Regions from separate parts of the Homo sapiens genome. Here all the other regions are linked to region 1. The links come from fine-mapping of genetic effects on gene expression. A gene starts in region 1. Each other region holds a variant in brackets. All regions are shown on one strand. Distances are between the middles of the regions. Region 1 holds the start of PLAUR (plasminogen activator, urokinase receptor). Region 2 overlaps SMG9 (SMG9 nonsense mediated mRNA decay factor). Region 3 has its middle 15 kb from the start of IRGC. Region 4 overlaps ZNF285 (zinc finger protein 285). Region 5 overlaps PLAUR (plasminogen activator, urokinase receptor).

What was found.
Region 2: its variant is fine-mapped to the expression of PLAUR in blood mononuclear cells (TOPMed, PIP 0.99).
Region 3: its variant is fine-mapped to the expression of PLAUR in whole blood (TOPMed, PIP above 0.99).
Region 4: its variant is fine-mapped to the expression of PLAUR in blood mononuclear cells (TOPMed, PIP 0.98).
Region 5: its variant is fine-mapped to the expression of PLAUR in monocytes (Fairfax 2014, PIP 0.95).

The regions. Positions count from the first base shown.
Region 1 is chr19:43,667,539-43,672,666 of GRCh38, reverse strand. PLAUR (plasminogen activator, urokinase receptor) reads left to right here and starts at 2,498. Exons shown (of 7, transcript NM_002659.4): 1 at 2,498-2,601; 2 at 4,976-5,086. The coding sequence starts at 2,547. It overlaps LOC124904724 (a long non-coding RNA gene), which reads right to left and starts at 3,903. Exons shown (of 3, transcript XR_007067264.1): 1 at 3,484-3,903; 2 at 2,187-2,641. RefSeq lists an enhancer at 2,430-2,729 and silencers at 3,650-3,729, 3,770-3,999.
Region 2 is chr19:43,743,540-43,748,539 of GRCh38, reverse strand. SMG9 (SMG9 nonsense mediated mRNA decay factor) reads left to right here. Exons shown (of 14, transcript NM_019108.4): 3 at 488-562; 4 at 643-907; 5 at 1,001-1,098; 6 at 3,656-3,768. Among named protein-coding and RNA genes, the nearest start is that of SMG9, 8.9 kb to the left of the region's middle. RefSeq lists a silencer at 627-756. The variant A/G (reference allele first, on the strand shown) is at 2,405.
Region 3 is chr19:43,698,032-43,703,159 of GRCh38, reverse strand. It overlaps the pseudogene LOC105372412. Among named protein-coding and RNA genes, the nearest start is that of IRGC, 15 kb to the left of the region's middle. RefSeq lists enhancers at 1,598-1,657, 1,748-1,797, 1,808-1,857, 2,216-2,716. The variant C/T (reference allele first, on the strand shown) is at 2,014.
Region 4 is chr19:44,378,991-44,384,118 of GRCh38, reverse strand. ZNF285 (zinc finger protein 285) reads left to right here. Exons shown (of 4, transcript NM_152354.6): 4 at 1-1,821. Among named protein-coding and RNA genes, the nearest start is that of ZNF285, 20 kb to the left of the region's middle. The variant C/T (reference allele first, on the strand shown) is at 2,342.
Region 5 is chr19:43,646,662-43,651,789 of GRCh38, reverse strand. It overlaps PLAUR (plasminogen activator, urokinase receptor), which reads left to right. Exons shown (of 7, transcript NM_002659.4): 7 at 2,647-3,211. The coding sequence ends at 2,900. Among named protein-coding and RNA genes, the nearest start is that of CADM4, 9.4 kb to the right of the region's middle. The variant T/C (reference allele first, on the strand shown) is at 2,842.

The DNA of each region.
Region 1 (5,128 bases):
ATTGCATCCAGCCTGGGAGACAAAGTGAGACTCTGTCTCAAAAACAACAACAACAACGACAACAAATCACATAGTATAATCATTATTACAGCAGTAGAAGTAGCTACCACTTACTCATCCCCTACGACTCTCTTCCTCTCCTAATCTGTTCCAGCCACACTGACATCTCTTCTGTTCCTAGAATCTCATCAGGCTTCCACCTCAAGGCCTTTGCACTGGTTGTTCCTGCTCCTTGGAAAGGTTCCCTGCCCATCTGCCCTACTTCTTCCCTCACTGCATTCAGCCTCTGCTTGAATGCCACTTGCTCAGGGAACCCCTCCTGGATCACCCACCTAAAACAGCTCACACCTCATTTGCACCCAGATACTTCCTTCAGCCTGCTTTGTTTTCTCCAGTTTGCTTATCCCTCTCAGACAGTGAAAGATTAGATAACACATATCTGCTCCCCACTGTCAACACAACAAAAGGTGGGAACTTTGCTTTGCGTCCTGCTGTGCCCCTAGCTCCTGGACCAGTGCCCAGCACAAAGTAGGTCCTTGGTAGATGTTAAAGGAATGTGTTGAGCCCTCCATTTCGGCCAGCAGCTATTCCAGGCATTGCACCTACATTAAATTGCTCTGTTTAGTTAGATGCATCCTAAGACGGGGAGACAATTTTATCTTTAGTATTTTATTTTACTTAAAAAAAAAAAAAACTTGGCCAGGTGCAGTGGCTCATGCCTGTAATCCCAGCACTTTGGAAGGACAAGGCAGGTGGATCACCTGAGGTCAGGAGTTCGAGACCACCCTGACCAACATGGTGAAACCCCATCTCTACTAAAAATACAAAAATTAGCCGGGTGTGCTGGCGTGCCCCTGTAATCCCAGTTACTCAGGAGGCTGAGGCAGGAGAATTGCATGAACCCAGGAGGCGGAGATTGCAGTGGCCGAGATTGCACCACTGCACTCTAGCCTGGGTGACAGAGTGAGACTTCGTCTCAATAAATAAATAAATAAATAATAAAAAGAAAGAAAAAACTTATTATAAGCCTTTTCAAACCCACAGAAAAGGAGACAGAATGGCATAATATGCCCTTATATACTGATTACCTTTATATAATTGATACAACCATTTGGCTATTTTGCCTTTATTTTCTACTCAAGTATTTATTTATTTATTATTTTTTTGAGACAGGGTCTCGCTCTGTTGCCCAGGTTGGAGTGCAGTGGTGCAATCATAGCTCACTGCAGCTTCCAGTTCCCAGGTTCAAGCGGTCCTCCCACCTTAGCCTCCCAACTACCTAGGACTACAAGTACGGGCCACTGCACCCAGCTAATTTTATTTTATTTTTAATTTCTTTTGGAAAGATGAGGGCTCTTTATGTTTCCCAAGCTGATCTTGAACTCCTGGCCCCAAGTGATCCTCCTGCCTTGGCTTCCCAAAGCATTGGTGTTACAGGCATGAGCCACCTCATCTGACCTCTTCTAAAATATTATAAAATAAATACAGACATCAAAATGAAAACAAAAGAAAAAGAAAAAACAAAACAAAAATCCCCAAAACAACAACAACAAAAAATGCAGACATCAATAACATTCACCACTAAATACTCTAGTAAGCATCTGCAAAAACAAACAAACAAACAAAAACCAGAATCCCACCTAAGCATACAGCCATTGTCGTAACAGTGATATCTACTTTTTTGGCTGAAGTGTCTTTTTTTTTTTTTTTTTTTTTTTCTGTGAGAAGGAGTCTTGTTCTGTTGCCAGGCTGGAGTGCAGTGGCACGATCTCGGCTCACTGCAACCCAACCTCCGCCTCCCGGGTTCAAGCGATTCTCCTGCCTCAGCCTCCTAAGTAACACACACACGCCACTACGCCCGGCTAATTTTTGTATTTTTAGTAGAGACGGGGTTTCACCATTAAGTGTTTTAATGTAGGTGCAATGCCTGGAATAGCTGCTGGCCAAAATGGAGGGCTCAACACATTCCTTTAACATTTACCAAGGACCTACTTCGTGCTGGGCACTGGTCCAGGAGCTGGGGGCACAGCGGGAAGCAAAGCAAGGGTTAAGTGTTTTAAGTGTTTAAGAGATGCATATTTCAGGATGCATCTCTAGATAAGGACATTTTCCAAAATACCAGTATCCCTCCTGACAAAACTAACAAAAATCCTGTTAGCCAAATAATCAGCCACATTCATATTTACCGTCAAAGTTTTTATCCTCATTTTACAGCAGTGGAGAGCGATTGCCCCGGGTCCCACGTTAGGAAGAGAGAGAACTGGGATTTGCACCCAGGCAATCTGGGGACAGAGCTGTGATCACAACTCCATGAGTCAGGGCCGAGCCAGCCCCTTCACCACCAGCCGGCCGCGCCCCGGGAAGGGAAGTTTGTGGCGGAGGAGGTTCGTACGGGAGGAGGGGGAGGCGCCCACGCATCTGGGGCTGACTCGCTCTTTCGCAAAACGTCTGGGAGGAGTCCCTGGGGCCACAAAACTGCCTCCTTCCTGAGGCCAGAAGGAGAGAAGACGTGCAGGGACCCCGCGCACAGGAGCTGCCCTCGCGACATGGGTCACCCGCCGCTGCTGCCGCTGCTGCTGCTGCTCCACACCTGCGTCCCAGGTAGGGGCTGGGTCCCGAACGCCTGCGCCTGGAACAGGGTCTAATTGAGGGGGTTGGGGGTTGTCAGAGGATGAGTTGGAGGAATGCGGTTCAGTCCTCAGCATCCTCCCTAATCAAATAATAGTAATTCTCGTGCTTTGTGCAACGCCACGCGGCGCAGTACCTGGCACTCAGTAGCTAAGGAAATATTAGTGGAGCAAAGGCATTTAGCTTTACATAATTTAGTGAGTGCTTTTTTTTTTTTTTTTTTTTTTTTGACAGAGTCTCACTCTGTCGCCCAGGCTGGAGTGCAGTGGCGCGATCTCGGCTCACTGCAACCTCTGCCGCCCGGGTTCAAGCGATTCTCCTGCCTCAGCCTCCTGGGTAGCTGGGATTACAGGCGCCTGCCATCGCGCCCGGCTAATTTCTGTATTTTTAGTGGAGACCGGGTTTCACTCTGTTAGCCAGGATGGTCTCAATCTCCTGACCTCAGATGATCCACCTGCCTCGGCCTCCCAAACTGCTGGGATTACAGGCGTGAGCCACCGCGCCCGGCCCAAGTGTTCTTTTTTTAAATGGAGTTCTTCGAAGCCTCTTCCTTGCAATTTCAAACTAGGCGATGGGACTTTATTAATTTCGTTTCGCAGAGGAAACTAGGGCACAGAGAGGTTAGATAACTGGCCTAAAATCACACAGCCAGTGCTTGAATACGCAGGATCTGACCCTGCAGCGCCCCCCAGCGCTCTCCACGCTGCTGGGTCTCCCCCTCTGAGAAACGGGGGGACAGGACCCCCTTTTACAAAAGGCCCAAAGGGAGGCTGACTGAGCGGCGCAGAGCCAGTGCTGGAGACCCGGGACTGTCCCTCAGGACCTTTCCCTCTCACTGAGGCGACTCTCACTTACTTCCCCGGAAAATGTGGGGGGCTCTGGGTCGAGGAATTCGAGAAGGAACTGAGTCAGGGCGGGTGGCCACAGGGTGTTGGGGCCGCGATGAATAACCCGGAAAGCGCTCGAGACCGCGGGAGGCCGGGAATGAGTAACAGCTCCGGGATACTCCGAACGCGCAGCTGGAAAGGGATGTCCGGGAAGGCCCGGAGGTCGGGGACCGGGCCTAGGGACTGGGCTGCAATCTCGGGGCGGAGCCTGGGGCGGGGAGAGAGTGTCGGGGAGGAGCCAGAGGGCGGGGCTGGAACCTCAAGGAAGAGCTACGGGAGAGGTTACAGACCGAGGAAGAGCTAGGAGCGGGGCTAGAACCTCGAGGCGGAGCCAGAGGGCGGGGTTATAACCTCGAGGCGTAACCAGAGGGCGGAGTTATAACCTCGGGAGGAGCTAGAAGGTGGGACTAGACTCTTGAGGGGCAGGATTATAACCTCGGGGAGGAGCTAGAGGGCGGGGCTGGAACCTCAAGGAGGGGCTAGGGGCGGGGTTATAAGCTTGGGGAGGAGCTACGGGGCTGGGCTAGGACCTCAAGGGGCCAAGGGGCGGGGGTTACGACCTCGGGGAGGAGCTACAGGGTGGGGCTGAAACCTCAAGAAGGGACTGGGGCGGAGTTATGACCTCAGGGGAAAACTAGGGGCGGGGAGAGCTAAAGGGCGAAGTTAGAATCTCAAGGAGGAGCTAGAGGGAGGGACTAAAGCCTCGAGGAGGAGCTAGGGGCGGGGTTATGGCATCGGGGAGGAGCTAGGGGGCGGGAAGATAAGGTCAGGAAGAGCTAAAGGGCGGGGCTAGAACCTCGACGATGAGTCTGGAGCGGGGCCAAAACCTAGTTGGAGAGCTGGAGGGCGGAGACAGAACTTCGCGGGAAACTAGAGTATCTAACAATAGAAACTCCGGAGGGCTGATGGGGCCGGGCCTAGAATTTGGGAATAAATTAGTGGGCCGGGAGAGGCTCTGGAGCCGGGTAGAACCAGGGGGAGTGAGTGGAGGGATAGTTCCATTAGGGCACTGGGAGTGACGGTATAACATAAAGATCGACGCGGGTGGGGCAAGGCTAGAACGTCCCCAGCAGAACTGGAGAGGCGTAATCGACCGAGGGCCGGTGCGGTGAGAAAGACCTAATAGGAGCAGGAATAGAACGTACTGATAGAGAGGGCGGGGATACGACTGTCAGGATATACGCCTCACGAGGACAGAATGAAAGGAAAAACGGGCCAAGGCAGGACTTTGGGAAAGGACTTGTGGGCAGGGATAGAACGTTCAGTTAGTGGGGTGGAGGTAGAACGTGGACAACGGACAGACTGGAAGTACCGCCGGCCGGAACCCAGCAGAACATGGACACGAATCTGAATGGACGGGGCCTGGAGACTTGGTGTTGGTATTGGGACATGCAGGGGTGAGCGGGGGTCTTGGAGCTAAGCGTAGTTAACCTCTCCTCTCCTCTCCCTCCTTCCCCCAGCCTCTTGGGGCCTGCGGTGCATGCAGTGTAAGACCAACGGGGATTGCCGTGTGGAAGAGTGCGCCCTGGGACAGGACCTCTGCAGGACCACGATCGTGCGCTTGTGGGAAGGTGAGCTTCCCCCCAACCCACACACCCCTCCAGCGCAGCATG
Region 2 (5,000 bases), 76 kb before region 1:
AGGTGCCATGCTAGACACTTGATGAGTTCTCTCTCCTTTCATCCTCATCATAGTCTGTGAGGAAGGAATTCCCATACCCACTCACAGATGGGAAAATGAGGCATAAGTGAAGGTGGCGAGGGTGGTTCCTTATTCAAGTTCACACAGCCAACACGAGGCGGGATCAGGTTTGCACCCAGACCTGTCTAGCTCCTAGTTCCTTTCCTCCTGGGCTTGTTGCCTCGCAGAGGCAGCTGAGCAGAATGCTTGAGGATTTGGTTCTGCAGCCAGGCTGCCTGGGCTTTGTGACTTTGGGCAATCTGCTTAACCTTTCTAGGCTTCATTTTCTTCATCTGTAAAGTGGGGGTAATAATAGTATCTATCTCACAGGGCTGTTGGTAGGATCAAGGTAGTTAATATATTTCGGCATTTAGAATAGTTCATGGTACATAAAGATCTGGAATGTCCAGGAGAGCCATTCATGAGTAACTGCCCTCCCTCACCACAGGATGCCAGCGAAGAGACAAGCACTTCCGTCATGCAGAAAACCCCCATCATCCTCTCAAAACCTCCAGCAGAGCGGGTGAGCAGAGAAGGAGGGAGGAGGGGGAGCCGTTAGGGAAGGGATTGCCCCCATTGATGGGATTTTTTTTACCTCCGTAGTCAAAACAGCCACCACCTCCAACAGCCCCTGCTGCCCCGCCTGCTCCAGCCCCTCTGGAGAAGCCCATCGTTCTCATGAAGCCACGGGAGGAGGGGAAGGGGCCTGTGGCCGTGACAGGTGCCTCTACCCCTGAGGGCACCGCCCCACCACCCCCTGCAGCCCCTGCGCCACCCAAGGGGGAGAAGGAGGGGCAGAGACCCACACAGCCTGTGTACCAGATCCAGAACCGGGGCATGGGCACTGCCGCACCAGCAGCCATGGACCGTGAGTTGGGGCTGGGCAGTACCAGGTTGGGAACTGGCGTCTCCTCACAGATCCTCACTGCATCCTCTGTCTCCTGCTTTCTCCAATCTCCAGCTGTCGTGGGTCAGGCCAAACTACTGCCCCCAGAGCGCATGAAGCACAGCATCAAGTTGGTGGATGACCAGATGAATTGGTGTGACAGTGCCATCGAGGTACCGAGGGGTCCTGCCCTGCCTGAGCTTCCGCACATCCTGCATCCTCTGATCTTCCACCTCTCTGTAGGCAACACCAGACTGGAGGGTTTTGAGGCAACTTACAGCAGTGAGAGGGGGTGGTATCAGAACATTCTCACCTAACCAGAGCGGAATTTCAACTAGCTCGGCTGTGCTTGCTAGTTGGTAAAATACAGAACTCCTTTGGTACCGATTGGTAAAGAAGTACTCTCACTACCACCCCAGGACCCCTGGGATCTCCCGTGCCATCCACAGCAGGGGAGTCTTTTGGACCCTGCTCCAGTACCCTTCTTATTTGGTTGAAACCCTTGCTGGTGGCTCATGCCTGTAATCCCAGCACTTTGGGAGGCCAAGGTAGGAGAATCACCTAAGCCCAGGAGTTCAAGACCAGCCTGGGCAACATAGGAATACTCCATTTCTACCAAAAATTTAAAAATTAGCCAGGCATGGTGGCAGGAGGCATCCAGGCCACTCAGGAGGCTGAGGTAAGAGGATCACTTGACTCCAGGAGGTCAAGGCTGCAGAGAGCTGTGATCATGACATTGCACTCCAACCTCAACAACAGAGTGAGACCCTGTCTCAGTAAAAAAAAAAAAAAAAAGAACAAGAAGCCCACGCTGTCTCAGTGTCAACTGTTTTGAATGTCACTCCCCCAAAGTGACCCCCATCCATCCCACCACCCCCTGCTCTAGTTCAGACCTCACATTCCTAGATCATCATACATAACACCAGTCTCCCAGATGTTGTGTCCCTTCTTCTGCTTTTTCTCCCCTAGACCTGTCACACCCCTGCTCAGATTGTCCCAGAGGTGTCACCTCTCCTACCCAGCAGCCTGGACTTATTAGCACAGCCTCAAGTCCATTTATTGCCTTGCCCCTGCCACTTCTGTGTCCACTCTCACATTGGAATTAACTGGGGAGCTTTAAAAAAACAAAAAACAGAACAACAACAAAAAACCAAACCCTACCCTTCAGCGCTATTAAGGAAAACTTTCTGCAGTGATGAAGATCATATATATTTGAACTATCCGTCCAGTATGGTAGCCGCTATCCCCAGATGTGGCTTTAGAGCACTTGAAATGTGGCTAGTACAACCAAACAGAATTTTTAATGTTGTTTAAGCTTACTAATTTAAATAGCCATGTATGATCAATGCCTACTGATTGAACAGGGCATCCATAGATATTCTGCTTTAATGTGTTAAAGCACGTTAAATCCTGATTGGGCCCAGGATTTGCTTTATTTATTTAGGAGACGGTCTCGCTCTGTTGCCTAGGCTGGAGTGC[A/G]GTGGCACCATCTCGGCTCACTGCAACCTCCACCTCCCGGGTTCAAGCAGTTCTCCAGCCTCAGCTTCCCAGGTAGCTGGGACCACAAGTGTGCGACATCACGCGCAGATAGTTGTTTTTTTTTTTGTTTTTTTGTGATGGAATTTCGCTCCTGTTGCCCAGGCTGGAGTGCAATGGCACGATCTCGGCTCACCGCAACCCCCGCCTCCCGGGTTCAAGCAATTCTCCTGCCTCAGCCTTCCGAGTAGCTGGGATTACAGGCATGTACCACCACACCCAACTAATTTTGTATTTTTAGTAGAGATGGGGTTTCTCCATGTTGGTCAGGCTGGTCTGTAACTCCCGACCTCAGGTGATCCGCCTGCCTCGGCCTCCCAAAGTGCTGGGATTAAAGGTGTGAGCCACTGCACCCAGCCGGGTTTTGTATTTTTGGTAGAGACGGAGTTTCACCATGTTGGCCAGGCTGGTCTTGAACTCCTGGCCTCAAGCGATCCTCCCACCTTGGCCTCCTAAAGTGCTGGGATTACAGGCGTGGGCCACAACACCTGGCCTATAGGATTCGCTTTTAAAAAACAAAACAAAACAAAATTTTAAGGTAATTCTAAGGAGCAGCAGCCACAGTTCAGAACGTAGCTGTTTTCCTTGAGGAGTGTCTCTTACACCCCCTGGTGGTGAAAGTCAGCAGAGCTGGTGGCCCAGAGTTGGTCTCAGTTAATTTCCAGAGGGGCTCTTAAATCCCACAGACAACAGCATATGAATGTAAAAAAAAACAAAAAAACACACACACAGACGAAAGCCTGGGTGGCTCCTGTTTGCACACCACTCCCTTTCATGTGCTTTCCCAGGTTTGCCAGGAATCTGTGCCAGTAGCCCTCAGTCGCCGAGTCCTATCTTCTCCAACCTGCCCTTCTGTTCCTGTGACTCTCACTTTCACTTCTCCAAGATCAGACTTCCCTTTTTCCCGCTGTGTTCAGCCACACTGACTTCCTTTTAGCTTCTTGACCATGCTAGGCTCTTTTCTACTTCAGAGTTCTCACAGACACTGTTGTTTGTGTCTAAAACATTTCACATAATCCTACCATGACACGGAACAGAGGCCCTATGCCTAGTTGAAGGGGTTGGGACTATAGGAGTTTCTCTTCATATATGATAAGGCAGGTGGGGGAGCCACAAGGGTCTCTGGAGTCCCCCCCTCATTCCAGCTCCAGCAGCTGACAGACTTGTCAGAGTCATTTATGTATTTTCCCACAGTACCTGTTGGATCAGACTGATGTGTTGGTGGTTGGTGTCCTGGGCCTCCAGGGGACAGGCAAGTCCATGGTCATGTCATTGTTGTCAGCCAACACTCCAGAGGAGGACCAGAGGTGAGGGGCTATCAGATAGGGTGCAGGAGGGAGGTGGGCACCCACTGGGAGCAGGGGCAAGGTGGGCTTGGGTGTTTCAAGTGGTGTTACCAAAGGACTTTGGAAAGTTGCTTTTCTTCTGTAGACCTCAGTGTCTTCATGAGATGAAGATGATAATGGGCTGGACTAAATCTGTGTAGCTCCAAGGCATCCAATCCTGTTCCTCCCTCCCTCCCTCCCTTCCTGCCTGGCCTCAGGAAATGGTACAGGTCCTAGACAAGAAGTGGGATGATGTAGTTGTTAAGGTTTTGGATTTGGGCCCACCTCAGGCTCAGCCCTGCAACATAACTGGTTGACCTTGGGCAGGTCACTTCATTTCCCGTATCCCCTGTCCAGGTAGATTTTTGGAGAATAAAATAAGATCAAGAAGGCAAAAGTTAATGAGCACCTGGCATAGAGCAAGTATCACAGAATGGTAGCTGATACGATCTGAGAAATAGAGTGGGGAAAGAGATCTGGAGACAGAGAGTGGTTTCTGTACCAGCCTCAGTCCTACTGTGTCACCTTGGGAAAATGGCTCTGCTTCTCCAGGCTGGGGAGGATCAGACATGAGGATTCTCTGGCCTGAACAACATTCTTGAGTAAGGATGGAATGTGATTATGAAGATAAAGCATAAGGGCACAGGAGCAGGTTTTGGGGAGGGGAGAACTTGAGAAACAGGTCCCGAAACTGGGGGCAGAGAAGGAAAGGGAAAAATGTAGGAATTTGGGAATGGGGGAGATACACATCTCATTAAGGGAGAATCAAAATGGGGAATGAGAATGGATAGTAGCCACTGGGGTGGTGAAGAACAGAGACATGTTGAAGTTACCTAAAAATACAGGGATCTGTTTTTTTGTAAAGCAGGTGATACTACCCTGGCCTCCATGGATGAGCGTCAGGAGTCCATTAATCCCTTAACAGTATATGCAGAATTTTATTTATTCATTTATTTTTGAGACAGTGTCCTGTTCTTTCACCCAGGCTCAAGTGCAATGGCACGATCATAGCCCACTGCATCCTCTACCTCCCAGGCTCAAGTGATCTTCCCACTTCAGCCTCCCAAGTAGCTGGGACTACAGGGGCATGCCACCACACCAGCTGGTTTTTAACTTTTTTGGTAGAGATGGCGTCTTCCTCTGTTGCCCAGGCTGGTCTCAAACTCTTGGGCTCAAGCAATCCTCCCGCTTTGGCCTCTCAAAGTGCTGGGATT
Region 3 (5,128 bases), 30 kb before region 1:
GGAGAGGAGGGAGAAAGAGAGAGAGGAGGAAAGAAGGGAGAAAGGAAGGAGGGAGAGAGAAAGAGCAAAGGAGGGAGGGTAAAAGCAAAGGAAAGGCCAGGAGCAGTGGCTCACGTTGTAATCCCAGCACTTTGGGAGGCCAAGGCGGGCGGGTCACTTGAGGTCAGGAATTCGAGACAGGCCTAGCCAACAAGGTGAAACCCCGTCTCTACTAAAAATACAAAAATCAGCTGGGCACGGTAATGCGTGCCTGTAATCCCAGCTACTCTGGAGGCTGAGGCAGGAGAATCGCTGGAACCTGGGTGGCGGAGGTTGCAGGGAGCCGAGATCACGCCACCGCACTCCAGCATGGGCAACAGAGCAAGAGACTCCATCTCAAAAAAAAAAAAGCAAAAGAGAGAGGTGAGGAGGGAGGAAGAGGGGAAGGTGTAGGAAAGGAGGAGGCAGGGAAGGGGGAAGGAAGAGAGAGATAATTTGGCAAAATGTGCATAATTTTGGACACTGAGAGATTGATACTGAAGGGTCATTTAATGACTGCTTCCAGCTGCAAACATCTCCTGGGCGCCTGCTATGGGCTCTGGGCTCAGTCACATTTTGGTCCCATCATAGATTGGGGTATCAGTCTGTCATAGATATTATACTATTTTCTCTACTTTTGTGTATATTTGGACATTTTCTTAATGTTTAAGGGGGGGAAATTTTATCTTCTAGAGTCAGACAGATGTGTGTTCAGTCCCAATGTTCTTCATACTAGCAGTCTCTTAGCCTCCTTCAGCCTCAGTTTCTTCCTCTATACAATGTGGATAAATAATAGCACAGTCCTCATGATTAACAACCTGAAGACATGACTATTTCAATTGGTTGAAAGCTTAGGGTGGGCCAAGCCTTGTGCTTAATGTACCTTACAATAACACCTTACAATATGGGAACACAAGGCTCAGAGATGTTATGAAACTTGTCCAAGACTACACTGCAGATAAATTGTGAATCCACACCACAAACCCAGGTCTGTTTGAGTCTAAAGATCTTTTATTTTTTTTCAATTTTTTTATTTTAATTTTTTTTTTTTTCCTGAGACGGAGTCTCACTTTGTCGCCCAGGCTGGAGTGCAGTGGCGCGATCTTGGCTCACTGCAAGCTCCACCTCCCAGGTTCACGCCATTCTCCTGCCTCAGCCTCCCGAGTAGCTGGGACTACAGGTGCCCACCACCACGCCTGGCTAATATTTTTTTTTTTTTGTATTTTTAGTAGAGACGGGGTTTCACCATGTTAGCCAGGATGGTCTTGATCTCCTGACCAGCTGGGACTACAGCTATACCTGTAGTCCACCACCATGCTAGGCTAACTTTTCAATGTTTTGTAGAGATGGGATCTTGCTATATTGCCCAGGCTGGTCTTGAACTCCTGGCCTCAAGCAATCCTCCTACCTCAGCCTCCCAAAATCACACTGTGATTACAGGCATGAACCACTGCGTCTGACCCACATTAACTGTTTCTTACTGCATCTGCCTTGGAGCCTTTGCCTTTCCAGTTCCCTCTGCCTGGAATGTCCTCCTCCCCCACCTCAGACAACTGCATGGCCTTCTCCCTTGCCCCACGTAGGTCTTTACTTCCTCAATTAGGTCTTTACTTACGTCACCTTACTGAGGCTCTTACTCACCATGTATAAGATCATATCTCTTTGGCAGCGTTCCCCATTCTCCTTCCCCGCACTGTTTCCTTCCTAGTACTCACTGATATGTGATGTACGATATGTGATATTTATTTATTATGTGTCTCCTCCACTAAAATACCACTTCCATAAGAGCACAGAATTTTGTCTGTATCGCCAGTGTCTCATTTACAAAAGAATACATAGCTTGTGACTGATAAAGATTTGTTAGATGAATGTTAAATGAATTGTTTCTATTCTTTCGGTTGGGCTTTCTGTTACTTTCAGTTTTTGTTTTTGAGACGGAGTCTCGCTTTGTTGCCCAGGCTGGAGTGCAGTGACGCAATCTCAGCTCACTGCAAC[C/T]TCCGCCTCCCAGGTTCAAGTGATTCTCCTGCCTCAGCTTCCTGAGTGACTGGGAACACAGGCACTCGCCACCATGCCCGGCTAAGTTTTTGTATTTTTAGTAGAGACGGGTTTCGTCCTATTGGCCAGGCTGGTCTCAAACTCCTGACCTCAAGTAATCTGCCGGCCTCGGCCTCCCAAAGTGCTGGGATTACAGGCGGGAGCCACTGCGCCTGGCGGGGGCGGTCTCTTTCAAGCCCCCTAGAGCCACGCCGCCTAATCTGTCTGGTGCATGGCCTGGAGTGATTTCTTAGGTAGCCCTCCCTCCCACTGTCATAGCCCCCAGGCACTGGGATTACAGGCGTGAACCACTGCGCTCAGCCACTTTCAGCAGAAAGCAAATGGTTCCTGGCATTCTGCCTGTGGTGAGCAACCCAGTTTCACTTCTCCGCTCAATCCTCTGAGTTCAGTTCCAGATGCAGCATTTGGTCTTATGCCCACCCTGGCCAGACACTGTTGTCGGTTTGTCCCCTCCAGGTTCACCAGTTGAAGTAACTTAACCTCCCCTGGCCTCAGAGGAGAGAGGACCACATCAGGGCCCTCTTTGAGGCTAAAACTTCAGAAAAAGGAAACTCAAACCACTTGGCATTGTGAGATGTGATTCATTCAGATCTGGTTACAGCTGGGAGATTGGGCCCACACAGAAGAGGGGCTCCTCACCCCACCCATGCCCCCTGCCCCGTCTTGGCCCATGGTGGGGGTGGAGGAGGCTGCTCTGAAAACCTTGGAAGAGGGTGTATCGGATCCTCAAGCCCCGCCTTGGCTGCCCAGGATTTTGCTAGACCCCAAACAGGGAGAACAAAAGAGAAGTTGCTTGTCAATGTGTGGGAGAAGAGACACATCCCTGGTGTCTGGGAGCAGCCGGATATTGGGTATCCCCTCGTTTGAAGAAGGAGGCTTAGTAACTTGAGGAAGAAGAACAGCCCTCTTCTGAGGGAGGAGGTTTGGCCTTGGGGAAGGTGCTAATCTGAGGGGGGAGGTATAGCGCCCCGCCCCAACTTAGTTGAGCAGACGCCTGATCTCAGCAGCAGGTGAGTGGCCTTAGTCTGAGCGGGGAAGACACACCCTAGGCTGATGGAGGCATGGCCTTTGGGACCCTGGTGTGAGGAAAGAGGACTTAGCCTTGAGTAAGCCCTGAGTCTGGAGCAGAAGGTCTGGCTTTGGGAAACGCTAGTCTGAGGGAGGAAGCTCATCCCTGCTTCCTGAGTTTCTCACCAGAGGCTTCCAGGTCTCCGCATTGCCCCAGCAGAGGGGAGCCAGGGCACCATCTAGCGACGTGCCGAACAAGCAGGTGGAGGGGGCCTCCCGGGCGGCGGGGTGGTCCAGGCGGGATTCCTTAGCACAGCGTCGCGGTTGCCAGGACTACCACCAGAACCGGGAGGGAGAGGCGGAGGCCGGGCGCGGCGCCCGAGCGGCAGTGGGACTCTAGGACGGCGCGGCGGTGGGGGCTGCAGTGGCTCGACAGCCAGTGTCTTGGGAGCACAGAGAGCCCGTGGGTCCAGTCCAGGGCGCTGCACAGGTCTCGGGAGCCGCAGCCGCGTACGTTCACGTTCCGGCCGCCTGCCGAGACGGAGACAGGGTGCAAGGAGGGGACGTGGGGGCGCGCGCAGGCAGAAGGCCACCCCCGCGCGCACCCAAGCGCACACGCGCGCGCCTTGCACACGCACAGGGCCCGCGAGCCCCTCGAGTCCATGTCCTTCGTGAAAGCTCATCAGGAATGTTCTTTTCTTTGAGCTGGGAGCTGGTCACGGCTGTCTCTCTCTCGTTGTCACTCTTTCTACCTTACACGTATGTTACAGGTGTGTTTTCACTCGTGTGCAATGTTTGTTTCCTTTTTTAAAAACTTTTTTTAAAAAAATGAGACAGAGTCTCGCTCTGTCACCCAGGCTGGAGTGCAGTGGCACAATCACAGCTCACTGCAGCCTCGACCTCCTGGGCTCTGGTGATCCTCCCACCCCAGCCTCCTGAGTAGCTGCGACTGCAGGCCGTAGCACCAGGCCCAGCTAATTATTTTGAAAATTTTTTGTAGAGATAGGGTCTGCCTCTGTTGCCCAGGCTGGTCTCAAACTTCCAGGCTCAAGCGATCCTGGCCTCCTAGAGAGCTGGGATTACAGGTGTGAGCTACCACACCTGGCCCAGAAAATTTTAAATTACACACGTGTCTTACATTACATTTCTTTCAGAAAGCACTGATATAGTTTAGTGGATTATCTTATTCAATTCTCACAACAGTCTTAGGACTTAGCGACTGTTGTTATTCCCGTTTTGTTGTTGTTTTTTCTTTTTTTTTTTTTGAGACGAGGTTATGAAACTTGTCCAAGACTACACTGCAGATAAATTGTGAATCCACACCACAAACCCAGGTCTGTTTGAGTCCAAAGATCTTTTATTTTTTTCAGTTTTTTAATTTTATTTATTTTTTTTTTCTGAGACGGGATCTCGCTTTGTCGCCCAGGCTGGAGTGCAGTGGCGCCATCTCGGCTCACTGCAAGCTCCGCCTCCCGGGTTCACGCCATTCTCCTTCCTCAGCCTCCTGAGTAGCTGGGGCTACAGGCACCTGCCACCACGCCCGGCCAATTTTTTGTATTTTTAGTAGAGATGGGGTTTCACCATGTTAGCCAGGATGGTCTCGATCTCCTGACCTCGTGATCCGCCCGCCTTGGCCTCCCAAAGTGCTGGGATTACAGGTGTGAGCCACCACGTCCGGCCCTCCCCTGTTTTTTAAAGAACTTGTTGCATACCAAGTTATCCCCTTTTACAGATGGAGAAATTGAGGCACAGAGAGGCAAAGTCACCTGGTCAAGGTCACCCAGCTCAGGTGGTGGATTCAGCATTTGAACCCAGGCAGCCTGGCCCTAGAGTCCTGTTCTTATGCCCTTTACTCTGTCACCTCCCTCATGAGTTCACTTTGTCCTCACAACGCCCTTCAAGGTGTGTGTCTACCATCCCCAATTACCAGAAGAGAAAACAGAGGCTCAAAGAGATAAAGTCACTTGCCTTGAGCTACACAGAGTAAAGGGTGGAGGGGAGACTCCAAACTCAAGCACACCAGTATCCAAATCTAACGTGCTAAGGC
Region 4 (5,128 bases), 710 kb before region 1:
CCACATACTCCAGTACTCCTACTTGCAAACATTAAGTTAGAGAAAAAATCCGGGATACACATTATCCTAGGAAGCTTTTGGGGTTTAGAATGGGTGCAACATTCCTTCATGACAGAATCAGCCCTCAGTGTTGGTGGAGGTGTCCCAGGCAATCCTCTAGTTTGGCCGGGAGCAGCGCTTGCATATCACATTAAGCTTTTTAAATATATGATGCTAACAGGAATGTCTCCCTACTTCACAAAATTGTTTGCTTTTCCTCTTGTAGCAAAGTAGCATGGAAAAAGCAGAAATTAGTCTAGCTCCCAATCAGTGGGAGCCAATCTCATTTACAAATGAAGATGCAGAGATCCTAAATAAATATGAGCATGTCAAATCCAATGATTTGATAAAAGCGTAACAGACTCGCTCATGTATAATTTATCCTAAATATGCTTATCAGCTTCTGCCTCATAACACACACAAGAACTGAGTAGCTCTAAATACATATTTATTTAGCTCATGATGTGTGAGCTGGCAAGTTCAACTGGGCTTAGCTGGGCAGTTCTGGTGTGGGACATGCTAGATTATCTTAACTGGGCTTTGTACATGCATCTGCAGTCAGCTGATGGTTCATCTGGGCCTGGCTGTTTTATGATGGTCATAGATGAGACAACGAAGTTCTCTCTGTCATCATGGTCTCTCACCCTCCAGAAGACCAATCGAGGGTTGGTCCCATAGTGCCAGGGTTTCAAGGGCAAAAGCTGTGATCTCTTAAGGCCTCATCAGGGAACAGGCTCAATGATACTTTCACCACATTTTAATGATTAAAGCAAGTCACAACACTGGCCCAGATTCATGGGGTGAGATTAAGACAAAATAAAAAATGTTGAGACATAATCATTGGAAGGAAAAGGAAGATACTATTTTTATGCTAGAGAATAATGTTATTTACTTATAAAATTCAAATCCACCTGTAAAATTTGACCAATTGAAGGCTGTTTTAAAATTATCGGGTCAACAAATTGGTTTCACACGAAATTGGCATGTGAAAATTCATAGCATTACTATGTAAGAGTCTTTTATAAAATGTAGCCAAAATGTTTCATTCACAATAACAATTGTGTGCAATGACCAGAATTGTCCAAAGGTAATTCTGGGAGTTCCCTTTGGGATGCCTAGGTGAGGAGCTATCTGGGGCCTCAGACTCCCACATTCTTCAGTGGGAAGGGCTTTACATGAACTCAACTTCCCAGCGGCTTTCTCTTCCTGATGGGAGGTGTTAGAACCTGGCTTTCTCATGCAACTTCTGTGAAGCTCTGACAACTAAAGCCAGATTGTCTGCTTTAGTTAAGTAGTCCAGATTACCTGCATAGTCAATTTGTTCCCTCACCAACATGGATGCCTTCACAATTGCTCTTTAAGAAGGATAAAAACATAGCGGTGAGGTGTGGTCTATTTCCTGCTTCACCCAGGCCCTGGTGCTTCTTCAAGTGGTATGAGAAATTGTGGTCCTGTGCCTTCTCTTCCAGACCCTTAGCTTACATGTTTTCCCTATAAAACTTAGTCCTAATCCCAGCACTTTGGGAGGCCAAGGTGGCTGAATCACAAGATCAGGAGTTTGAGACCAGCCTGGCCAACATAGTGAAACCCCGTCTCTACTAAAAATACACAAAATTAGCTGGGCATAGTGGCAGGCACCTGTAATCCCAGCTACTCAGGAGGCTGAGGCAGGAGAATCGCTTGAGCACAGGAGGTGGAGGTTGCAATGAGCCAAGATCGCACCACTGCACTCCAGCCCAGGCGACAGGGCAAGACTCTGTCTCAAAAAAAAAAAAAAAAAAAAAAAAGTCCCTTATGTGTGATGATAAAATTTGATGAAGAGCAACACTGGTGGACTTACATTACCAGAGATCAACATTTATTATAAATTTTCTATAATTAATACAGTGTGGTATTCGCTCAGGAGAGAAAAAATAGATCAATGGAAAAGAATTGGGAGCCCAAAAACAGATCCACATGTATACAGTGAGTTAGTTTATTAGCCTTGAAATATGTTGGAGAAATAATAGTCATTTTAATAACTGATGCTGGGTTATCAGTTATACTGATAACTACTACTTAACACTACTTAACACTAGCTCTTCATACAACTACAGGCAATAAATACAAATAGCATGCAGCTGGCAGACTGGGCCCAGTGGCTATGCCTCCACTAGACTGCCCATAGAAGCATAATAACAGCTACCGAAGATGTCTGATCTGTCTTGTCTTTTTTTTCAGGTATAATTTACATAAAGTGCAGACTTTAACTACATTTAAGTTTTAACAAATGTACATATCCTTGTAAATAATGCCCATTCAA[C/T]ATGTTAAACATTTTCTTTACCCCAAAATTTCCCTTGTGCCCCTTTCCCTTCATTTCTTTCCAAAAAAGGATATAATCACTGTTTTGCTTTCTATCACCATATGTTGGTTTTGCCTATTCTTGAACTTTATATAAATGAAATCATACTGTAATATACTCTTGCGTTTGGCTTTTTTTTCATTCAACATGGTTTTCTAAATTTGTAATTTATAATAAATAGAGTATTGCATATTTTATTATTGTTTATAAATTGTGTTCTGAAAACATTCTATATTAGTAAAATTTATAGTAAACTTATATAATGTACGTATGTTTCTTTCTGGAGAGCCATTTATTAAACATTTATTAGCATACCACTCACAAAGGAGATGTAACCCCAGAATTGGCCTTTTTCTTCTGTAGTCAACTGGCTTTGAAGTAGAATGTAACATTAGTTATTATTCCTCATTCCCCACTCATTCTCTGTATCTGCTTCTCTTATTTTTTTTCTTTTATTTTTCTGCAGACACTATGGTTACTTAAGTATCTACTTCTCTTTTTCTGCATGTCTTTGAGTAGAGACACTGGTCACCTTTGTTCCCCACTGTCTTTTCAAAGGTGCGTACGCGTTAGGGAACAAAAATATAGTGTCTTCCTCTGGAGCAGCAAATTTGTTTATGGACCACTCCAGTGAAGACAGTGTCTCCCTCTGGGGTGAAGGGCAGTGGTTTTGTTCCCACTGCCTATCATAGAAGATTCAGGTTTCCTAAGCTTAGAGTTCTATTCCTACAACGCAGCCCGCTAGGTATGCAAGCAGCACCTGGCCTTTCACGTCACTCTATGGGATTAGAGTGGTAAAAACCATTGCAAAGGATGACACTCTGGCTACTGCTGTGGTTGTGACTAATAAAGTCCTTTGTCTCAGAGCCAGGAGTCTCTTGTCTTGTGCCAGCATCTGTGAGACTGTCAGGCTAACTTGTGAGCTTGTAAATTGGTTCCTTTCAGATCCTTGGTTTTGATGGAAATAAATGTCTCTTAATCTTAGATGCAAACTAGAGCTACCTGGAATGCTTTCGGCTTTTTACAATTTTTTTCTGGTGAAATATACATAACATGAAATTTACCATCTTAACCATTTTTAAGTATATAGCTCAGTAGTGTTAAGTACATTTACATTGTTGTAAAACCAATCTCCAAAACTCATTTTATCTTGCAAAACTAAAACTCTATCCCATTCAACTCTATCCCATTCAACAGCAACCCTCAATTTTCCCCTCCTCCCAGCCACTGGCAGCCACTATACTTTGTGTCTCTATGCATTTGACTTCTCTGAGTCACGTAAATGGAATCATACACTATTTGTCCTTTTTTTTTTCTTTTTCTTTTTCTTTTTCTTTTTTTTTTTTTTTTGAGACAGAGTCTCTCTCTGTCACCCAGGCTGGAGTGCAGTGGTGAGATCTCGGCTCACTGCAAGCTCTGCCTCCAGGGTTTACGCCATCCTCCTGCTTCAGCCTCCCGAGTAGCTGGGACTACAGGCGCATGCCGCCACGCCCGGCTAATTTTTTGTATTTTTAGTAGAGACAGGGTTTCACCATGTTAGCCAGGATGGTCTCGATCTCCTGACCTTGTGATCCGCCCGCCTCGACCCCCCAGAGTGCCGGGATTACAGGCGTGAGCCACCATGACCAGCCCAGTATTTGTCTTTTTGTGACTGGCTTATTTAACTTACCATAATGTCCTTAAGGTTTATTTGTGTTGTCGAATGTGTCAGAATTTTCTTCCTTTGTACACTTGGGTTTCTTCCACTTTTTGGCTATTGTGAATAATGCTGTTATGAACATAGGAGTACAAATATCTCTTCAAGACCTTGCTTTCAATTCTTTTGGACACATACCCAGAAGTGGAATTGCTGGATCATATGGTAATTGTATTTTCAATTTTTTCAGGATCTGCCATTCTGTTTTCTATAGAAGCTGCCACCATTTAACATAATGTTTTTAAGTTCATTTATATTATTATGCTTATCAGTCTTCTTTTTATGTTCAGAGTAATCAGGAAATTACCACAGTTTGCTCATTCTTATGTTGGTGAACATTTGTTTCCAGGTTTTGGAAATTTTGGATAAAGCTACTAAGAATATTCTTGTATTAGCCTTTTTGCAGACATATGCTTTGATTTCTCTTGGGTAAATACCTAGGAGTGGAATTGCTGTCATAGGCTAAGTGTATGTTATCTTTATGAAGAATTGCCTGTCCTTGTCTATTAACATAAAGAATGAGGTACTTTATTGTTCACTTAAAATCTTTATGTGGTTGGGCTGTGTGTGGTGGCACATACCTGTCACATACCTGTAGTCCCAGTTACTGGGGAGGCAGAAGGATCACTTGAGGGCAGGAGTTTGAGGCTATTGGATGCTACAATCGTGACTGTGAATAGCCACTGCACTCTAGACTGGGCAACTTAGCTAAAAAAATTTATGTGGTTAAAATATCAATGTGTTTATGAAATTTTTGTATAATGATTTTTTAAAAGAAAACTTTCCCATACTCCCAGGCACTAATTATTTTCAAAACATGAAGACTATGTTTTAAATGGTGTCAGGCACAAATCTAATTTTAATTTTTTCCAATTGGATAGTCAAGGCTTTCAACATTTATTGATGAGTCCCTTTTTTATTTACTGATCTTAAAGGTCACATTTATACTACACTAGGTATATCCATTCCTGGAGTCTCCTATCTTTTATGTTTATTACTGAAATCTCTGACCATTTTTTTTTTTTTTTTGAGATAGAGTCTTGTTCTGTCAC
Region 5 (5,128 bases), 21 kb after region 1:
GTGGTTCTCAAACTTTTTGGTCTCAACTTCTTCATGCTTTTAAAAATTATTTTTGGCCAGGTGTGGTGGCTCACGCCTGTAATTGCAACACCTTGGGAGGGTGAGGAGGAGAACCACTTGAGGTCAGGAGTATGAGAGCAAGCCTGGCCACCATGGTGAAACCCTGTCTCTACAAAAAATTACAAAAATTAGCTGGGTGTGGTGGCGTGCACCTATAACCCCAGCTACTCAGGGGGCTGAGGCACGAGAATCACTTGAACCCAGGAGGAGGAGGTTGCAGTGAGTGGGGATCACCCCACTGCACTCCAGCCTGGATGACAGAGGGAGACTTTGTCTCAAAAAAAAAAAAAAACTCTTTATTGTTTATATCAGTGATTTCTATAGATAAATGCCACATTAAAATTAAAACTGAGAACCAGGAGTGGTGGCTCACGCCTGTAATCCTAGCACTTTGGGAGGCCGAGGTGGGTAGATCACCTGAGGTCGGGAGTTCAAGACCAGCCTGACCAACATGGTGAAACCCCATCTCTACTAAAAATACAAATTAGTCGGGCATGGTGGCACATGCCTATAATCCCAGCTACTCGGGAGGCTGAGGCAGGAGAATCACTTGAACCTGGGAGGCAGAGGTTGCGGTGAGCCAAGATTGTGCCATTGCACTCCAGCCTGGGCAACAAGAGTGAAACTCCGTCCCAAAAAATAAAATAAAATAAAATTAAATTAAAATTAAAACTGAGAAATCTTTTTTTTTTTTTTTTGAAATGGAGTCTTGCTCTGTCGCCAGGCTAGAGTGCAGTGGCATGGTCTCAGCTCACTGCAACCTCCCCCTCCTGGGTTCAAGCAATCCTCCTGCCTCAGCTTCCTGCATAGCTGGGATTACAGGCATGAGCCACCATGCCCAGCTTATTTTTGTAATTTTAGTAGAGACGGGGTTTCACCATGTTGGCCAGGATGGTCTCGATCTCCTGACCTCATGATCTGCCTGCCTCGGCCTCCCAAAGTGCTGGGATTACAGATGTGAGCCACCGTGCCCAGCCAAAACTGAGAAATCTTTAAAGATTTATTTATGAATTCATCTTATAACAATAAAAACTCATTACACATTAAGATAAATAACATTTTAATGAAAAATAAGTATAGTTTCCAAAGAAAAAATGTAATGATAGCCAGGCATGGTGGCTCATGCCTATAATCCCAATACTTTGGGAGGCCAAGGTGGGCGGGTCACTTAAGCCTAGGGATTTGAGACCAGCCTGGGCAACATAGCAAGATCCTGTCTCTACAGAAAATACAAAAGTTAGCTGGGCATGGTGGTGCATGCCTGTAGTCCCAGCTGCTTGGGAGGCTGAGGTGGGAGGGTCACTTGAGCCTGGGAGGTGGAGGTTGCAGTGAACGGAGATTGCACCACTGCACTGCGGCCTGGGCAACAGAGCGAGACCCTGTCTTAAAAAAACAAACAAAGAAACAACAAAAAAAAAACCAGCCAGGCGCGGTGGCTCACGCCTGTAATACCAGCACTTTGGGAGGCCAAGGCGGGCAGATCACAAGGTCAGGAGTTCGAGACCAGCCTGGCCAATATGGTGAAACCCCGTCTCTACTAGAAATACAAAAATTAGCTGGGCATGGTGGTCGCGCCTGTAGTCCCAGCTACTTGGGAGGCTGAGGCAGAAGAATTGCTTGAACCCGGGAGGCAGAGGTTGCAGTGAGCCGAGATCGTGCCACTGCACTCCAGCCTGGGTGACAGAGTGAGACTCCATCTCAAAAAAAAAAACAAAAAAAAAGCGTAATGAGAAAACTGGCATTATTTTGCTGTGTTGCACATCTCTTTAATGTCCAGCTTAATAGAAGACAGCTGGGTCCTCATGGAAGCTTCTGCTTTCAGTCTCTTGCAATATCACATGTCCTGGAGTTTTTGGAAAAGCCCATTGTACACTTATGAGAGTGAAAAAGCCATGTGAAATCACAGATCTCCTGAAAGGGTCTCTGGGGTCCCTGAGCCACACTTTAAGAACCGCTGCTCGCTTCCTTTCTTTCTTTTTTTTTCTTTCCTTTTCTTTCTCTGTCTCTCTTTCCCTTTCTTTCTTTCTTTCTTCCTTCCTTCCTCCCTTCCTTCCTTCTTTCCCTTCTCCTTCCTTCCTTCCTCCCTCTCTCTCTCTTTCTTTCTTTTCTTTCCCTTCTTCCCTTCCTCCCTTCCTTCTTCCCTCCCTCCCTCCCTCCCTTCCTTCCTTTCTTTCTTTTTATTTGTTTTTTGAAACAGGGTCTCACTCTGTTACCCAGGCTGGAGTGCAGTGGCGTGATCATAACTCACCACAGCCTCCATCTCCTGAGCTCAAGTGATCCTCTCATCTCAGCCTCCCAAGTAGCTGGGACTACAGCTGTTTTTTTCTTTTTTATGTTTGTAGAAACAGAGTTTTGCTATGTTGTCCAGGCTGGTCTGGAACTCCTGGGCTCAAGCTATCCTCTCTCCTTGGCTTCCCAAGGTGTTGAGATTACAGGCATGAGCCACCACACCTGGCCCTGAGAACTGCTGCTTTCTCTAGGTGGTAGTGAAGGTGGCACCCACTGCAAGGTGGCAGGTCACCTACTGGAGAATTCCAGTCCTGGGCCCAGGAGCTGGAAGTCTCACTCCGTCTTCTCTTTCCTCAGAACCGAAAAACCAAAGCTATATGGTAAGAGGCTGTGCAACCGCCTCAATGTGCCAACATGCCCACCTGGGTGACGCCTTCAGCATGAACCACATTGATGTCTCCTGCTGTACTAAAAGTGGCTGTAACCACCCAGACCTGGATGTCCAGTACCGCAGTGGGGCTGCTCCTCAGCCTGGCCCTGCCCATCTCAGCC[T/C]CACCATCACCCTGCTAATGACTGCCAGACTGTGGGGAGGCACTCTCCTCTGGACCTAAACCTGAAATCCCCCTCTCTGCCCTGGCTGGATCCGGGGGACCCCTTTGCCCTTCCCTCGGCTCCCAGCCCTACAGACTTGCTGTGTGACCTCAGGCCAGTGTGCCGACCTCTCTGGGCCTCAGTTTTCCCAGCTATGAAAACAGCTATCTCACAAAGTTGTGTGAAGCAGAAGAGAAAAGCTGGAGGAAGGCCGTGGGCCAATGGGAGAGCTCTTGTTATTATTAATATTGTTGCCGCTGTTGTGTTGTTGTTATTAATTAATATTCATATTATTTATTTTATACTTACATAAAGATTTTGTACCAGTGGACAAGGCCAGGTATGCCCTTCTTTGTAGTGTCTATCTTTGGGAGGATAAATGGTGGGGGACACCTTTTCACAGGCTCCTGGAATCAGGGGTCATGTTTGAGGCCCCTGCCTAGGTTGGAAGTCCTCCTGGGGGCTGCCTCCACATCTATTTCTGGACTCCAAATGCTGACAGAGCAGGAGCACTGCCATCTTGAACAAACACCACCATTCTTAGTTCCTCTTGATTAAAAATCGGCTAAATCCGGACGTGGTGGCGGGTGCCTGTAGTCCCAGCTATTCGGGAGGCTGAGGCAGGAGAATGGCGTCAATCCGGGAGGTGGAGCTTGCAGTGAGCCGAGATTGCACCACTGCACTCCAGCCTGGGTGACAGAGCAAGACTCTGTCTCAAAAAAAAATCAGCTAAATCCAGCCCCAAAACATCAGCCTAATGGCTACCATCAGCATAACCAGAAACATTCCAACCCTAAGATAAACCCCTCTCTGACCAGAAACATGCCAACCCCCAGATAGCCTCCCTTCCGACCAGAGACTTTCCAACCCCACAATAAACTTTTCCTCACATGAAAACATTCCGAACCTAGATAAGCACCCCCTTCCAAAACTCTTAAATATCCTTAGTCTGTAAAAAAAAAAAAAAAAAAGGGCTCTCTAACCTAACTCAGCCAAAAGCCCCCCTCAGGTTGGTTTTCTCTAAAATAAACCTGTCCTTCACCGTCAAGCCACATTTCATGTTTCTTTCCTTTTCCTTTTTCTTTTCTTTTCTTTTCTTTTTTTGAGATGGAGTTTCACTCTTGTTGCCCAGGCTGGAGTGCAATGACACAATCTCAGCTCACCACAACCTCCACCTCCTAGTTCAAGGGATTCTCCTGCCTCAGCCTCCCAAGTAGCTGGGATTACAGGCATGCACCACCACACCCGGCTAATTTTGTATTTTTAGTAGAGACAGGGTTTCTCCATGTTGTTCAGGCTGGTCTCAAACTCCCAACCTCAGGTGATCTGCCCACCTTGGCCTCCCAAAGTGCTAGGATTACAGGCATGAGCCACCGTGCCTGGCCTCCTCTTTCTTTAATTCTTACAAATGCAAGCTTCCAGATCACACACTGAACACTAACCTTCTAGTCTTCTCCTAAACTTCAAAGGTTGCAACTATTTTGTTGTTCTAAGGAGACATCCCCACATTTCCCAGCATGCTTTGGGAAAGGAGACGGATAGAAGATAACCTGATGGCCAGAACTCCCTGCATGCACTGCAGTGAGGAATAAGGACAGGAGTGCACTTCCCCTGATGTGCTGGGGACCGGGGATAAAGGCTGGGCTCTATTTCCCGGGATGCCTCAGGACTGTCAGAAAAAGAGACAGAACTACCATTTCAATGGCACTCTAGGAGCACAATATTGAAAAATTCATGTTCTTCTCATCATTTGCTAAGGCAACCCATGGAGACAAAAATTACATTCCCCATCAAATCTTGTGGCTAATGAAGAAAAAATAAGATATCTTCGGCTGGCTGTGGTGGTTCACGCCTGTAATCCCAGCACTTTGGGAGGCCGAGGTGGGCAGATCACTTGAGGCAGGAGTTTGAGACCAGCCTGGCCAATTTGGCAAAACCCCGTCTCTACTAAAATTACAAAAATTAACCGGGTAAGGTGGTGGGTGCCTGTAACTCCAGCTACTCGGAAGGCTGAGGCAGGAGAATCGCTTGAACCCAGGAGGAGGAGGTTGTAGTGAGCCAAGATCACACCACTGCATGACACAGTGAGACTATCCCCAAAAAAAAAAAAAAAAAAAAAAAGACATCTTCCATGGTATTTGGGGGCAGGTGAGGGACAAGGTTCTTGTTTAGGGCTTTCTCTAATGACATATCACCACCTGTCACTGTAGTGGCTTAAAGAAGTGAGGTCTGTACTTCTGCCTCTTGA